2 linked regions of the Homo sapiens genome follow. The protein of the gene in region 2 purifies or fractionates together with the protein of the main gene of each other region. This does not show direct contact. Each region holds a gene or a part of one and is shown on either strand. Other genes may lie near its edges.

Evidence for each region. Proteins that work in one complex are often made in the same cells at the same time.
Region 1: the proteins of RAPGEF3 (region 2) and PIK3R6 purify together in Homo sapiens (pull-down; one study listed by IntAct). This does not show direct contact.

What each region holds. Positions count from the first base shown.
Region 1 is NC_000017.11:8,832,451-8,837,259, forward strand, and holds part of PIK3R6 (phosphoinositide 3-kinase regulatory subunit 6), read right to left. Parts: intron 4,474-4,809; coding exon 4,341-4,473; intron 4,267-4,340; exon of another isoform or gene 4,167-4,266; coding exon 4,097-4,166; intron 3,007-4,096; coding exon 2,823-3,006; intron 596-2,822; coding exon 439-595; intron 1-438. UniProt on the Homo sapiens protein: Regulatory subunit of the PI3K gamma complex. Acts as an adapter to drive activation of PIK3CG by beta-gamma G protein dimers.
Region 2 is NC_000012.12:47,755,171-47,760,521, reverse strand, and holds the start of RAPGEF3 (rap guanine nucleotide exchange factor 3), read left to right. Parts: upstream 1-1,641; 5' UTR 1,642-1,769; coding exon of another isoform or gene 1,770-1,800; 5' UTR 1,801-1,965; coding exon 1,966-1,971; intron 1,972-2,060; exon of another isoform or gene 2,061-2,443; coding exon 2,444-2,656; intron 2,657-4,609; coding exon of another isoform or gene 4,610-4,673; exon of another isoform or gene 4,674-4,820; intron 4,821-5,351. Other genes in the region: SLC48A1 (heme transporter HRG1), read right to left, coding at 121-306, 4,610-4,673. UniProt on the Homo sapiens protein: Guanine nucleotide exchange factor (GEF) for RAP1A and RAP2A small GTPases that is activated by binding cAMP.

The DNA of each region.
Region 1 (4,809 bases), on a different chromosome or scaffold from region 2:
CGGCTCACTGCAACCTCCGCCTCCCTGGTTCAAGTGATTCTCCTAACTCAGCATCCCGAGTAGCTGGGACTGCAGGTGCCCACCACCACGCCCAGCTGATTTTTTTTTTTTTTTGAGACTAAACCCTCTACTACTTTAGTAGAGGGTTTCCCCATGTTGCCTAGGCTGGTCTCGAAACCCTGACCTCAGGTGATCCGCCTGCCTCGGCCTCCCAAAATGCTGGGTTAACAGGCGTGAGCCACCGCTCCCAGCCTAATTACCCGCCTCTTAGTCCCGGTCCTGCCAAACCCCCAGGCTGCCCCCAGTCCCCAGGCTCCTGGGAGTCGGCCAGGCACCCAGACAGAGGCAGGTCCAGCGCTGCTCTCTGGCGCCCCCTGCTGTGCAGTGAGCTGCCCCCGCGGGACTCTTGCCAAGGCCCCCCATCTGCCAGTCGCTTACCACCGCAGCGCCCCGCCGCGGGACCCAGCAGCGAGCAGTAAATCTCCTCCAGCCTCTCTACGTGTCCCTCCCGGCTCGGGCTGGCCTCGCTGGCCATCTGCTCCAAGGCGGCCACCACGGCGTGGAAATAGTGCTCCAGGGTGCGGCGAGGGCTGGCCTGTTGGGGAGGGGCGTCAGAGCCTGGGTCTTGGCCCAGCGCCCACGCACCCCAGCTCCTAAGCCAAGTCCGCAGGGCCCTGGCAGCCCAAGGTGACACCTCTCCGCTGCCCCTGGGGGCCCGGCAGGAGCTTCCCCCGAAGGCTTCTGGATCCCACATCCAGGGCCCTATGCCTGCCCTGCAAGTGGGGGTTCCCCTCTGCCCCTCACACGCTATTATGGGGAGACTACTGGTCTGCAATGTCTGTTACCCAGAGAGGCAGAGATAGCCACTGACGCCCACTTCCTGAAAGCGTCACCCAGCACTTGGATCAATGTTCTAGCCCCCACTAGATTGTGAATTCCAGGAATTCACAGGGAATTTTGTCTGTTTCATTCATAGCTGCATCTCCAGCACTTAGAATAGCTCACTGCACCAGGTGTTGTTCTAGGGGCTGGGATACAGCAGCAAACAAAAGAGATTGTGTGATCTGGGAAGCCCCCCCTGAGAAAGTGACTTTTTTTTTTTTTTTTTTGAGACGGAGTCTTGCTCTGTCACCCAGGCTGGAGTGCAGTGGTGTGACTTTGGCTCATTGCAACCTCTGCCTCCTGGGTTCAAGCGATTCTCCTGCCTCAGCCTCCCGAGTATCTGGGACTACAGGTGCGCACCACCACATCCAGCCAATTTTTGTATTTTTAGTAGAGACGGGGTTTCACCATGTTGGCCAGGACGGTCTCGATCTCCTGACCTCATGATCTGCCTGCCTTGGCCTCCCAAAGTGTTGGGATTACAGGCGTGAACCACCGCGCTTGGCCGAAAGTGACTTTTAGGTAAAGACTTGAAGTGAAAGAGTGAGCCATGCAGCCCAGCGCGGTGGCTCACGCTTGTAATCTCAGCACTTTGGAAGGCCGGGGTAGGTGGATCACGAGGTCAGGAGATGGAGACCACGGTGAAACCCCGTCTCTACTAAAAATAGAAAAAATTAGCTGGGTGTGGTGGCCGGCGCCTGTAGTCCCAGCTACTCAGAGAGGCTGAGGCAGGAGAATGGCGTGAACCCAGGAGGCGGAGCTTGCAGTGAGCCGAGATCACGCCACTGCACTCCAGCCTGGGCAACAGAGCAAGACTTCGTCTCAAAAAAAAAAAAAAAAAAAAAAGAGTGAGTCGTGCAGGTATCTAAGAGAACGTTCCAAGCATAGGGAGTAGCCAGCGCAAAGGCCCTGGGGTGCAAGTATGTTAGGCATGTGCATGTTGGGAGACAAATGAGGAGGCTTGTTTAGCTGGAGCAGAGGAAATGAGAGGGAAAGTTAGGAGACAGGCCAGAGAGGAAATGAAGAGAGATGGGAACAGGTCAAGGCCCTCAAGATGAGGTTCTTGTATTTTTATTTTTAGAGATGGGGTGTCTCTCTGTTACCCAGGCTAGAGTGCAGTGGTACAGTCACAGCTCACTGCAGCCTTGAACTTGGCTCAAGTGATCCTCTTGTCTTCCGAGTAGCTGGGACTGCAAACACATGTCACTGCGTCTGGTATTTTTTTTTTTTTATTACTTTTTGTAGAAATGGGGTCTTGCTATGTTGCCCAGGCTGGTCTCAAACCCCTGGCCTTAAGCAATCCTCCTGCCTCGGCCTCTCAAGTACCTGCAATTATAGGCATGAACCACCACACCAGGCTCTTATAGGTCATTGCAATCACTTTGGCTTTGACTCCGAGTGAGATGATGTAGTAGCTACTGTTGTGGTGACCCAGATTCCTGCTTTCGGGGCTGAGACACTCATTCACCCTGCTGCTAGGAATACTGGCATTATCTTATATCTTATTATTGGTTTTTTTTTTGGAAATGGAGTCTCTCTCTGTCACCCAGGCTGGAGTGCAGTGGCACAATCTTGGCTCACTGCAACCTCCACTTTCCGGGTTCAAGCTATTCTCCTGCCTCAGCCTCCAGAGTAGCTAGGATTACAGGTGCCCGCCACCACGGCCAGTTAGTTTTTGTATCTTTAGTAGAGACTGGATTTCGCCATGTTGGCCAGGCTGGTCTTGAACTCCTGACCTCAGGTGATACACCCGCCTCAGCCTCCCAAAGTGCTGGGGTTATAGGTGTGAGCCACTGCGCCCAGCCAAAATGTATTAATTTTTGATTTGGGGGAAAAGGTGATGCGAAACAGGAGAAGGAGGAAGAGCAGGGTGAATGACTGGTATGGGCATGCAGGGACGAGGGCTGGGACTGACAAGGGGCTGCAGGCAGGGCCATTACCTGCAGCTTCCTGTGCAGAGCGCCTGCGTGACAGGCCTCCCCCAGAGCCGCCTGCAGGGCGTGGGAGACCACGTGGCGCATGCAGGTCTCTGGTGTCTGCTGCGCCTGGGCCGCCTCGATCTCCAGTAGCAGAGCACTGCACACAGACGCAGACACCAGCTCAGGATCCACGAAGAGGAACACTCTGAGGGCAGAAGCAGAGGGGAGAGGTGGGATTGATAGTAACTAATGGGAGAGGGGCCACCGGATGGGCACCCTCAGAGCTGTGCAGCACCTCCAAGTAATTTAATTCTGCTAAAAAGAGGAGTCTCAGATTCAAAAGTCTCTGGGTGGGATGACAATAGGGAGTGGTGAGGACTGTGGCAAATAAGAGCATGCACAGCCCTTCTAGAGGGGCAGCTCTAATCCACTGTCCACAGAGGAAAGCAGGCCTAGTCCCATGTTTAGGAAAGTTCCAGCCTCAATCCTGCTCCCTCTCTCAGCATCCTGGCCCAGGGACCAGGTCACCCTCTAGGAGGGACCCTAAATCCTTCCTGCCAGAACTGGAGTTCTGAACTCTGAGTGAATCTCACCTTCTTTCATCACTCTTATCACACCAGAGAGCCAACCTCCCCTACTCCCTCCTCCTCACCCACTGTGTCTCCCCACCTCTCCCATGGGTGCCCTGGGCCTCCTTGCATCTTTCATGAACTCAGCACCTCACACCCCAAACTCAAGCTGTGCCTTTCAGGGCCAAGTTAGTGGAGGTGCCTGCAGAAGAGGGAGGTGCCGCTCCCAACTTCATCACCCCTCTCCCCAACACGAGCAGGGGACACTTCCTCAGTCTTATCTAAGAGGCTTGGCGTCCCCCATGGAAGCCCTCTGGCTTCATTGTGCACTTGCGCCTGAGCCCCTCCGCTATGGCTATTCTGGAGTCTCCTCTGGCTGCCTGGCTGGTATGATGCTGCATTATGGCCAAGGGCAGGATGGAGGTGGAATGACAGAGCCCCAGAGTGGCCCCGAGGCCATGTCCACCTTCTGCATGTGAGCAGGGTAGCTTCCAATCCAACCTGAGAAGAAAGACCTATCCTGTGTTCAGTGGTCTCCAGAAAACAATATGGCGCCAACCTTGAATGGCAAACGCACCCCACTGCTGGACAAATATCATGGCTGGGGAGGTCTGCTAGGGCTCTTCTTAATCCAGCCTCCTCTTTTGTCCTCCTGCCAGGGAGCAGTCACTAAAGCCACAACAGTTTTAGGAGGCTGAAGGTAGCAATTTTTCTGGGGCCACTCACCTCTCCTGGTAGGGATACAGCTCATTCGTCAAGTTCTGTTCGGCAATGACCATCCTTTGGTACAGTGTCCCTGCAAACCAGACCACTTTGGCCAAACAGCCCCCAAGTCTCTGACTCCCATTCTCCACCTTCCTACAGAAGGTGTGGAGGCTTTTGAGCTCCCCGGTATCCTGGAGAAAAAGGAAAGACCCTGGGCAATGTTGGAGGTGCAGCGTGGGAGACAAAGATGCCCAGTGACTCTTACCTGGGACAGCCATCTCCGTTTTCAGCCTTATCGCGCAGTCCAAGGCGACTGTGCAGTAGGGGGTGGGCAGGGTCAGTAACCTTGTGCAAAAGGCATAGATTCTCTGGTAGAGCTCTTCTGTGATTCCTGTGGCCTGGGTGAGAGGGAGGAGGGGGAGGTGAGAGGGAGGAGGTGGAGGTAAGAGGGAGGAGGGGGAGGTGAAGGGTCCCGGGGGAGTTTCCGGGGAGGGGCTTGGGAGAAGAGGTGGAAGGTCAGGCCTAACAGCCAGACCTGGGCTCACAGCTCTCTCCCAAACCCACACCTTCCAGCCTCTTCTCCCAGCACCTGTAAGACATCCATTTGTCGCCCCGCCCCAACTTACCAAGATAAAAATTCATTGCATCAAGTTATGCAAGCAAATCAACTTCCTCCCAGCCCTCCTGCTCCATCAGGGAAGCACATTCCTGCGGTTCTCCAGGCTCAAAACCAT
Region 2 (5,351 bases):
CCCTTTGTGACCCAACTGCCAGTCTCAGGAAGCCTTCCTGCAAGAACTTCTAGGCCAGGGCACTGGCCCCAGCAACCCGAAACTCATGACTCCATCCCCCTAACTCTTCCCCATGCATACCTGTGACTCCCAACTTGTCATCCTTTCCTGTCAGTTTCCAGGTTGCTCTTCCTTCTTCCAAATTACCAGAACTCCGTTGAATGGATTTGGGTCTGAGGTCAGATTCATTCTCAGGCTTTCCTCCTTCCCCGGAGAGGCATTTAAAACTCCACCAGCGTTTCTTAATGTGTGGACACAGCAGATGACCTGGGGTGTTTGTTCCAAATACAGATTTTCCATTTCATGCCAATAGGATTGAATATGAATTGCTGGGGACGGAGCCTGCATTTTAGTAAGCTTCTGGGAAACATTTTTTATACATGTATACATTAAAAATGGGATTTTAATCACAATTAAAATTTCTCTCCCCACTTTCAAGAAAATAATAATTGGTGGAGGATGGGGGCTTGGCATCCCAAAATTGGGAGTATAGGCTTCTTAGAGCTACCTCTTCCCAGTCTTCTCCTCACTTTCAAGAAAATAATCATGGTGGAGGATGCGGGCTTGGCATCCCAAAATTGGGGTATAGGCTTTTTAGAGATACTTCTTCCCAGTCTGGGCTGGCTCAACAGCAAAGGGAAAAGGGAAGAGAAGGGGCAAAAAGTCCTAAAAAGCTGGGGGTGGGGCGTTCACCTCCTTCCAAACCCTCATTATCGTCCTGAATTACGGGTCGCTGTCCCCGGCCACTGTCTCTCCACCCTCTCAGGAGTGGGGCGAAGAGGCCCGCGCTGGGCCATTTGCACAGTGGTGGAAACTGAGGCCCAGGGAGGCGTGGAGCCTCGGTAGCAAGCCTGCCTAGCAGGGCGCTGGAATGCCCGGTCTCCGCCTCAACCTACCCGGCCACCAGGGAGCGCGCGGTAGGGGGCGTGGTACTCGAACACCTTCTGCTCCCCTGGAAGCTCTGCCACAACCCCAATCTCCTCTTAGGGCCCCTACCCGTTCTGGAGAGCAGTCCTTCCTCTCCAGCCTCAGTTTCCTCAACTGCTCCCGGTGTGTGTGTGCTGGGGCAGGGGGCAGTGGGGCGTGGGTCTGGGAACGGAACTGTGGGAGGCAAGGCAGCGGGATTCCCCGCGGGAAAGCCGCCTATTCCCTCCCCCGGGCGGCTGGAGACCCTGAACCGAAACAGGAGGCAGACACCCCCAGCCGGGAAGCGGCCCCAGCCCGGATTTCCCTCCCGGGTGAGGCCGCAGTGACTCACCCCCTCCCCGCTCTCCCCGGTTTCCTTGTTTGCATTTCTCCTCCCGGCCACGTGGCGGCCAGTGCAGCCACTCACCGCCGGATCCCTGACACCCCGGCCGTTGCGGCCTCCTCCACACACTTCGGGGCCGCTCCTGCCCCCTGGGGATACTCTGGGCTCAGGCGGATGTCCACTCTGGTACCCCCGGGTGCGGACTCCAAAGCCTGCCAGTGCCGGCCCCCTTCCCCTACGCATTCCTCTACCGTAAGGCAGGGCGCCTCCACCCCGCCCCCTCCGCCAGTCCTGGGGAGGGGAAGGGGGCGGGCAGCGCAGGGGGTGTGACAGCTCCCGCCCGGACCGGTGCCAGCGCAGCCTTGCTTCAGCGCCCGGTGCCAGCTGGCTCCTTCGTCTGAGACGAAGGCGCAGGCTCGGGGCTCCCTGTCGCCGGTGGCTGGGTGGCGTCCCCCCACCACGCCCCCACCCCTCTACTCACCCAAGAGGAGCCTCTCCACCGAGCCCTGCATCCTGCTGCCCTGGCAGCCAGTCCAGCTAGGCACTGGCCCAGTTCACTGTACCTGGACTTACCCACTGGCACCCTCCGGATCCCCTTATCAAAGCTGATGGGGGTCGCTGGGGACCCCCCAGCCTTTTGCTAGAGCCTGCACGGCTGTGCGAGCTTGAAAAGAAACATGAAGGTGGGTAAGGTGGGGTCAGGGTTGAGGAGGAGCAGGAGAGGGCGGGAGAGGAAGCTGACACGGTGGGGAGTTTGGGTGGGAGAGGGAGGGTTAGTCAGGGCTGAGGAGGAGAGGAGAAGGGTTTAAGCCGAAGCTGCATTTCTGGGAGACCTAGTGAATCTATAGCTTCATACTGGGAGGTAGTGGAGATCCCTGCAGGGGCATGGGCAGTGAGATGGGACAGAATTCCAAAGAGGACTAAGAAGGGCCTGATCTTTTCCAAGAGCCAGCTGGAGACCCCTAAGTGCGCCAGACCGGCAGGCCCCAGTGAAGGTCTTCCTGTTCCTCCCCCCAGCTCCTGGCAGGGTTGCAGCACCTCCGCCTGACCAGTCCAGAGGACTCTAAGGAAGTAGTTCTGCCTGGGGCAGTTGTACTGTGGCCCAGCCGCCCCAGTCGTGTCCCATGGCTGTCCACTTTCCTCCCCGTGTCACAGGTGGGCTGGCCAGGTGAGAGCTGCTGGCAGGTGGGCCTGGCTGTGGAGGATAGCCCAGCTCTGGGAGCACCGCGGGTGGGAGCCCTCCCTGACGTGGTGCCGGAGGGGACACTACTCAACATGGTGTTGAGAAGGATGCACCGGCCCCGAAGCTGCTCCTACCAGCTGCTGCTGGAGCACCAGCGTCCGAGCTGCATCCAGGGGCTGCGCTGGGTGAGTACCTTTCACCTGCCCAGGTGCCAGGGCCAGTACCAGAGCTAGAGGGGGGCCTAGATCATGGCTTGGCATGCTGCTGGTGGCCCAGCTTGCTCTGGGGGTGTACAGTGGTACAGCTGCCGTGGACACTGGGTCAGGAAGCTTGTCTGCAGTGTGCGTGGGTGGCTCACACAGCTGCAACGTGTGTGTGTCTGTGTGTGTGTTCTGCCCAAATGTCTCTGTTTGGGCATGGGGGGAAGGGGAAAGGGATTTGTTGTTTATCTGTCACCTCAGTGAGCCGGCATTGAGTTAGGTACTTGTGTGTTCTTTCCAGGTGGAGGTGGGAGGTATGGGGGCCGGGTCAATGGGTTGGAGTGAGGTAAGCTTGGTTACAGTTCTGGGTGCATCACCGTGGCAACATTCTCCTTTAGTGAGTTACTGAACTGTGCTAATTCTGCGTTTTGGTCTTAGGGTGAGGTGATCATGTGGACACTGCTTGGTACCTGCCTTTGGGGGGCTCAGGGAAGGATTCTGAGACATTTGGAGAATCTGAGATCACCAAAGTGCCCTTTGCTAGTGAGAAACATCTCTGGACCTGAAAGAATGAAGGAGAGAGCAGGGAGGGGAAAGAATGGTGGGATTTGGGAGGCAAGATAATGGCTGTACTATCCAAATCAGCAGAGAAGCTATCCCCAACCATCCAGACTAAATAGAGTAGCTTAGCTTGAGATTCAGTTATGTCTCCACTGCGTGTGTCCACCCAGGTTTCGCTATGTTGCCTAGGTAGGTCTTGAACTCCTAGGCCCAAGCAATCCACCTGCCTTGGCCTCCCAAAGTGCTGGTATTACAGGCGTGACCCACTGCGCTTGGCCGGGAGAGTTCATTTCTTTTTTCTTTTCTTTCTTTTTTTTTTTTTTAACCAGAGTCTTCCTCTGTCACCAGGCTGGAGTGCAGTGAAGCAATCTTGGCTCACTACAGCCTCTGCCTCCCAGGTTCAAGTGATTCTCCTGCCTCAGCTTCCTGAGTAGCTGGGGCTACAGGTGTGCGCCACCACGCCCAGCTAATTTTTGTATTTTTAGTAGAGATGGGGTTTCACCATATTGGCCAGGATGGTCTTGATCGCTTGACCTCGTGATCTGCCCACCTCGCCCTCCCAAAGCACTGGGATTACAAGCATGAGCCATTGCGCCTAGCCGAGAGTTCACTTCTTATTGGCAAGTCCTTTTGAGTGGAATAACCACCACCCTCTCCCTCCTTCCCCCTACCTTGCCCAACTGCCATTTACAGTGAGGCTGAGTTGAAAAAACTGAGACCTACCAAGATGAGGGGCTCCTCTTTGCAATCAGAATTGAGAGGAGAGTCCACATGTCAGTCCTGGTAGAGCTGTTCTCTACTAGGGTCTTCCTTATCATGAGCCTGGGTCCTCCTCCGCTACCCCTCTGGCTCTCCGGCTCTCCGCTCTCCGGGTCACTGGCTGTAGCTATTGCCTGGAGCCAGTGGGCTGGAACCCTCCCTCCCTCCTTCCCTCTTGGGCTATAATTATTTGTGCATTTCCTGTCCCCTTCCCAGCTTGTGGAAGCAAGGTAGGGGGTAGGGAGAAGGTCAGGTGCCAGGACAATAGGTCACTGGAGGATCTCCTGGGACCTGAAGTCTGGGAGGGAGTGGAGGAGGCCACCAAGCTGTCTCCTGACTCTCCACAGCCCCCAGAAATGAAGGGCTGGTGTGCAGGGGAAGGCCAGAAAGGTGGGGGTAAAGGTTGCTGGAGTGTAAATGGGGTCAAAGGCACCAAAACAAGGCCTTTCCGTGCCAGGTGGGCGTTGGTGACTAGAGGGAACTTAGATTTTTAGTGTTTAGAGGCAGGCGGCCACTCCCTCTTCTGATGACCAACTTTGGGGACTGGGGTGGGGAGGTTTCATTCCATCATGCCTATATTTGAGAGGCTCTGGGTACCTGTGAAGCTGTACTTCTTACCTCTTGATGATGCCTTTAGCCCAGGGAAGGCTTCCGTGAGGGAATGAGTGCCAGCTGTGAGCATGCACGCCCATGGTGAAGGGGTGGAGCCCGAGTCCCAGGAAGACAGCACTGCCAGTTATTGAGGCCAGACCTCCCTCTTCGAAAGCCAAGGGGAAAACCCATCAACCTCCCAGAGAAGAAGTCTGAAGACAGCTCTTTCTGTTCCTACCTAGACCAGGACAAGAGAAAATGAAAGCGGGTTACAGTAGGAGGGCTTGCAGTTAGATACAGACTAAGATAAGACTTAACAGCTATTGCAAAAGTGACACTGGAATGGGATGGAAGAACATCTTTGGAAAATAAGAGGGGGAGGTGAGATCTTGTCTGATGTCCGGGGGCAGGGGCAAGATCAGAGTGACCTGTGGTGGGTTCTACTAGCTCAGGGAAGTCTGAGATGATTCTCTTTGTGTGACTGTTCTTGGGGAAGTGGCCCTGTTTTGTAACTCCGAGAACGCACTTTCATTCAACCTATCCAAATAATAGTAGTAGTTAATAGTTATACAGTACTTATGTGCCAGACATTATTGAAAGAGGTTTGCCTTTATCATATCAAATAATTCTCACAACAGCCCTGTGAGATAGGTACTAATGTCATCATCTCCATTTTATAGATGTGAAAACAAAGCCACAGAGAGGTTAAGTGACAGATTCAGAGTTACGCAGCTGCTAAGTGGCAAAGCTGGGCTTTGGTCCCAGGCAA